2 separate regions of the Homo sapiens genome follow, and region 2 is linked to region 1. Evidence: fine-mapped expression QTL. A gene starts in region 1. The other region holds a variant in brackets. All regions are shown on one strand. Distances are between the middles of the regions.

Region 1 (2,912 bases):
CTTCCCGCTAGTCACAACTGGTAACTACTGATTTGTTTTCTGTCCCTATAGTTTTGCCTTTTCCAGAATGTCATTGTTGACAGGTATCAGTAATTCATTCCTTTTTATTGCTAATTACTATCTCACTGTATGAATGCAACACAGGTTGTTTACCAGTTCACCCGTTAAAGAACATTTTGTTTCTGCGCTTGACAGTTATGAATAGAACTGCTATAAACCCTCAAGTAAAAGTTTTGGTGTGAAGATAATTTTCTCAGCAAAAACGCTGACAGGTAATTTTTCTAAGTATTACTTTTTTAAAAAAGTAAAATAGCCTGTAGCCCCAGCTACTCAGGAGGCTGAGGCAGGAGAATAGCTTGAACCCAGGAGGCGGAGGTTGCAGTGAGTTGAGATTGTGCCACTGCATTCCAGCCTGGGCGACAGAGCTAGACTGTCTCAAAGAAAAAAAAAAAAAAAAAAGAAATAAATAAAAAGTAAAATGAAAGCATGTAAGTGTAAGATGACTAGTTCAAGCAACCTCTCTTCAAGTACAGAGTATTCAGAGTAGAGATTAAAAGAGGTTTTCAAGGACAGAGAAAATTTGAAGTTTGAAGGCAGTTCCAAAGGAAGGCAATGATTCTTAATAAGACTGGAAGTTGGAAGTAATATAAAAAGATAAATCAGTTTCAAGATGATTTTACTAAGCAGGCAGCCCTTAATTTACAAATTCTAGATTCATACATATCTTAAACATACAAAATGATATGAGGAGAGGTAAGTTCAGGGTCTGAGTTCCTGGCTGTTGTTGGAACTGATTTCTGTGTAGTGATTCAGAAGATGTGAGACACCCTAATTTACAAGTACAGAGGTATCTTCTTTTCTGCAAACAGCAGTACAACAATAGTTCCTCTTACGCAGCTGTGAATGAACAGGATTATTACAATTAATGATATCTCATTTGATTGGCGCCTTAGAGAATTAAGACCTTTCACACCTAATATACAACTTTGTTGTGAAGGCAGATATTTATATTCTCATTTTACTGATGAGAGACTACCCGGAGACGCTATGTCACACCTGAAGGATTAGGTACTTTCTCTGTTAAGTCCAATGTTCCTTCCGTTATTCCATGCTAGGCAGTAATAAGTTCTGTCTTGCCTGAGTAATAAGCTCCAAACCTCGGAACTGCACCCATCTTGAGAAGGAGGAGGGCGCTGTGGTTTTTTCTGATAAGTGCAGCTGGCAGACACTCTATACGCTTAATCACGGGCAAATCCTAGCTAAGCTGCCTACCAAACTAGTCCTTCTTTTCCCCGTTGCCCACGCAGATGGCTGTTGATCTTTTCTGCAACAAATCCAGGAGTTTCTCCTTTTTGTTTTATAATTGCTCCAATAGATGCTTTAGGATTTAACTCTCTGCTTTTTAAAGCAGAATCGCCATCCCAGGTGTGCAACCACGAAAAAATTAGACATCCGTGAGAGACAATGCCCTCCATGGCCCAGTTTCCAGGCAGAGAGAAGCAGCTCTGGGCTGACCGCCAAGGCTCCGGCCCGAGAGGGTCTTTAAGTGGAGTAACCAGTCTTCAAGACCCCGCTCCCAAGCCACCGACGCGCTGACGCTGCAGCCCTGGACCTGCTGGGGGCCTCTTCCTCGGACCCGCATGCTGACAGCGGGACTGGCAACTGGGCAGAGGTCGACCCCGGGTCCGCACAGCACCTCCCGAGACCCAGCTCCCAGCTCCCTCACTTCCGGCTCTCTGGAGGCGGGCCCGGCCAGTGCCGCCGAGGCCAGCGCGGCGAGCTCCTCCCCAGCAGCGGCGGGACGGCCACACCCTGCGCTCCGCGCGGGCTCGGGTGGGGTCTCCGCTCCTGCGCCCTGCGCCCTGCGCGCCGCAGCCGCAACCCCGACGGCGCCCCAAACGCTGTTGCGCCGCGCGCCCCGCCCAGCCCGGCCTCGCGCTGGTCCCGGTCTCGCCCCGCAGCCCTCGATCTCCCGTGACTTCCTCGGCCAGGCCGCCTGCGCCTCTGGGACCATGTTGCGCTGGCTGCGGGACTTCGTGCTGCCCACCGCGGCCTGCCAGGACGCGGAGCAGCCGACGCGCTACGAGACCCTCTTCCAGGCACTGGACCGCAATGGGGACGGAGTGGTGGACATCGGCGAGCTGCAGGAGGGGCTCAGGAACCTGGGCATCCCTCTGGGCCAGGACGCCGAGGAGGTGGGTCGCCGCCGGGGCGCCGCCTGAGCGTAGGGAGGGCTGCGGGCGCTGGGGACACTGCGAGGACCGAGGAGGGCGGCGGCTTGAGGCGTTGCCAGGAGAGGAAGGAGGAACTGTGGCGCCCAGCGCTCCGGTGGCTTCAGAAACTCGGGCGTGGGGCCGCGACCGGCGACCCCGGTAACAGAAGTGGGTCATAATACGAAAGTCTACTGGTATTTGTCCAGATAAAATGAGTGTTGTGGACACTCTGGCCCACGGGCACTGTTAAATTTTTAAGACACTTTTGTCCTGAATCCATCCCAGGTTCTTTGTTTTCTGTTTTAATACCTTGCAGACATGTAATCCGTTTTAGCTGTCAGACTTCAGTGGGTCCCAAGTTTTGTATAAAGGCGCACACATTCGATCTCTTTCGAAGCTGCTTTGTTACAGCAGCTATGTGTATTGTCTACTGTTTGAAAACTGTTTGAAAACCAATCGCGTGTTTCCCCCACTTCCTGTTGAGAAGGAATGGCGGCATTCCATTGTTTAAGACATTCCTAGGTTAATGCCCTAGGTACATAAATTGATCTGAAGGGTTGACTTGACCTGCGACTGAGCAATTTCATTTTCTCTGAGTCATCTTAACTGTGCCCCTGAACTTCTGCCCCTTTAGTAGGGTGGAGATATGTGGAACTTCTCCAACCCTGTTGAAGCGTTCCCTGACACTGGCATTCTCTT
Region 2 (2,912 bases), 48 kb after region 1:
GCCTAGGAAATAGAGAAGCAAAAAAAAAAAAAAAATTAAAGAAAATCTAGTCTCCAGGATTTTAATTAGAACCTATCCTTGGGAAGGCTATTTTCCTTATATGAAGGTTTGAAGATTCAAATCATGATTATTAAGGGCTAATGTTTGAGATACCCTTAGGTTATTCTGACCACATACTTGGATTTTATGATAGGAAAGCCACAGCCTAAAATAAATAAATACTCAATGCAGTTATTTCAGTATGCAAGAAGTTTGGTATTTTTGAAAAAGTCCATGGGTATTGCAAGCAAATATGCACATTTTGCTTTATGCCATTTGTCAGATTCTTACCTTGGATACCACCAACAGGCATCCTCTGCTTCTGTCCACCCAAGCTCCTTCCTGAGACCTCTTTATAGTATTGTGATTTCTGCACACTAACTTTCTTAGACATGAAGAGAAAGCTGTCTACACAGTGTGGTGTAGTGTTCTTATGGGCTCTGGACCTATGGTGCTGTTTTCTCTCCTCCTGCTGAAGGTCCATTCATCCCTCGGGGCTCTCTAAAAGCCACCTTCCTGTGACAAGCATATACTAAGCATCTCAATCAAAGCCAGTTCCTCCCCTGTCCAGCCTCCCTCGAGTGCTGAATTGCAGAATATCCCATTTTTCATTGGATGATGGAAAACCCATTGTTTTCCCAGTGGATTGTAAATTACTTCGGGGTAAATAGGCTGTATATATTCTCAAATTTCCCAGAGTATGTAACTAGGTCACTTTTAGATTCAGATAGATTTTGTTCCTTGAATAGCTAGTACTTTAGGAAACTAAGAAAAAGATCTTTTCAACCTGGTATGTAGCTCTGTCAAACACATCATCAGTATGGGGTAAACCTGTGTTCTCTGTGGGTTGTCATTACCATAGTAGTGTCATTGTATCATTGACAGTGTAATAGTGTGGGGTAGTGTTCTTGTGGTTTCAGCTGCCATCTCTGTACTGACTGCTTTCCACTCCAACATCTTCCTCTTTATCTCAACACTGTAGGTCTACCTGTGTACTGTGTGTTTCAGCATCTCTGCTTGCATGACCCAGGAGTGCCTCCCACTCAATATGGCCACCATGCATGGTCATCTTTCTGCTACTCCCTGTCTCCTGACCCTGCTCCAGCAACACAGACAGACACCCTTCCTCTTTCTATATGTCATATGGTGGGAAATGCC[C/G]TTTAGTACTTACTCAGGAGTTAGTTCCTCTGGGAAGCCTTCTGTTCTAGTTTCCTTTTGTTACAGCACTTTCACATTGAATTCTGACGTTCTCTGTACTTATCTGCTTTGTGAGACTGTGAGCTTCCTTAGGCAGTAGCTACTTGTATTCTTAGCACCTTGCCCAGTGCCAGGAAACCCTTATTAAGTAAATGAAAAGACAGAACTGACAGACTGGAATTAGAGCTCAAGCTTGCCTCAATCTCAAGCCATTAAGATGAAGGGGAGCCGGGCGTGGTGGCTCACGCCTCTAATCCCAGCACTTTAGGAGGTAGTTTGCTTGAGCCCAGGAGTTCAAGACCAGCCTGGGCAACGTGGCAAAACCCCATTTCTACAAAAAATATAAAAATTAGTTGGGCGTGGGGGTGTGTGCCTGTACTCAGGATGCTGAGGTGGGAGGATCACTTGAGCTCGAGAGGCAGAGGTTGCAGTGAGCTGGGATCACACCATTGCAATCTAGCCTGGGTGATAGAATGAGACCTTGTCTCAAAAAAAAAATAAATAAATAAATAAAGGGGAAGATAAGGATTGGAAACAGAAGGAGCAGCATGTGGACAGAAATGTAGGCACAAGAAGGCATCACTCACTGAAGAGACTGAAGGTGGTTCACTGTGCCTCAAGACTGGTGGAGTGTGTTTCCGGAAAGATAATGATGAAAGAGCTGGACAGATAAACAGGGGCCAAATGTAATAGGAGTCTGGATTTTATTCTGAATATGGTAGGGGCTATTGTAGCATCTTATATAGGGAAGTGAAATGAGTACATTCACATTTAAGGAATATCAACCTGAAAAAAGAGTGGAGACATTGTTGGGGGAGAGTGAGGTAGACTAGAGGCAGGGAGAATATTTAAATAATTGAGGTAAGAAATGATGAACACCAGTATAAGGTGATGTCTTTAAGGAATGGAGAAGGGAATGAACTGAGAAATATTTTGGAAGTAGAATCAACAGAACTCACTGACTGACTGGATATGGAGGTGAGAAAGAGAAGAGTCAAGAATGATATTCTAATTTCTAACTTGAGTGACTGCATTCAAAGAGAATACAATATCAGGTTCCATTTTGTGCATGCTGAGTTTGAGATGTGTGGGACATGTACAGGGAGCTGTCCAGTAAGCAATTGGGTATATCAGCTAGCCATTAAGAGAGAGATCTTTGATAGAGAGGTTGTTGCTGAGTTGAGCCATTGGAATGGGCAGGATCACTCAAGAAGAGCTTATAAATGAGAAGAATTCTAGGAATAAGTCCAAAGGGAGAAGTAAAAGAAGAAACTTGCAAAGGACACTGAGAAGAAATAGCTCGAGGGATGGGAGAAAATCCAGAGAGAGGGATGGCATAGGAGTCAGTGGAAGGAAACGGTTTCATGGGGGTCAGTACTACTGGGTAGTGAATATAATAAGAATATCTTTTAGGATTTCTCAACCCAGAGATAGGTAAGCTTAGTATAAATGCTTCTGTGAAGTAATGAAATGAGAAACCATGCTGAAATGAGCTTAAAGTGAATGGGAGGTGAAGAAACTTGGACAGTAGAGACACATTTTTAGGGAGTTTGACAGTGAAGAGAAGGAAACTAGAAGAGGGAGAGGGTGATAGATAAGAAAGATGTTGGGTGGAGGGGATTTGTTTTTTTGTTTTTTTGTTTTTTTTCTGTTTGTATGTTTGTTTGTTTTTGAGA

What was found. PIP is the estimated chance that this variant, and not a neighbour inherited with it, causes the effect.
Region 2: its variant is fine-mapped to the expression of SLC25A24 in monocytes after R848 (Quach 2016, PIP 0.95).

The regions. Positions count from the first base shown.
Region 1 is chr1:108,199,239-108,202,150 of GRCh38, reverse strand. SLC25A24 (solute carrier family 25 member 24) reads left to right here and starts at 1,808. Exons shown (of 10, transcript NM_013386.5): 1 at 1,808-2,195. The coding sequence starts at 2,013. RefSeq lists an enhancer at 1,590-1,884 and a silencer at 1,685-2,024.
Region 2 is chr1:108,151,197-108,154,108 of GRCh38, reverse strand. All of the region lies in intron 6 of SLC25A24 (solute carrier family 25 member 24), which reads left to right. Among named protein-coding and RNA genes, the nearest start is that of SLC25A24, 48 kb to the left of the region's middle. The variant C/G (reference allele first, on the strand shown) is at 1,198.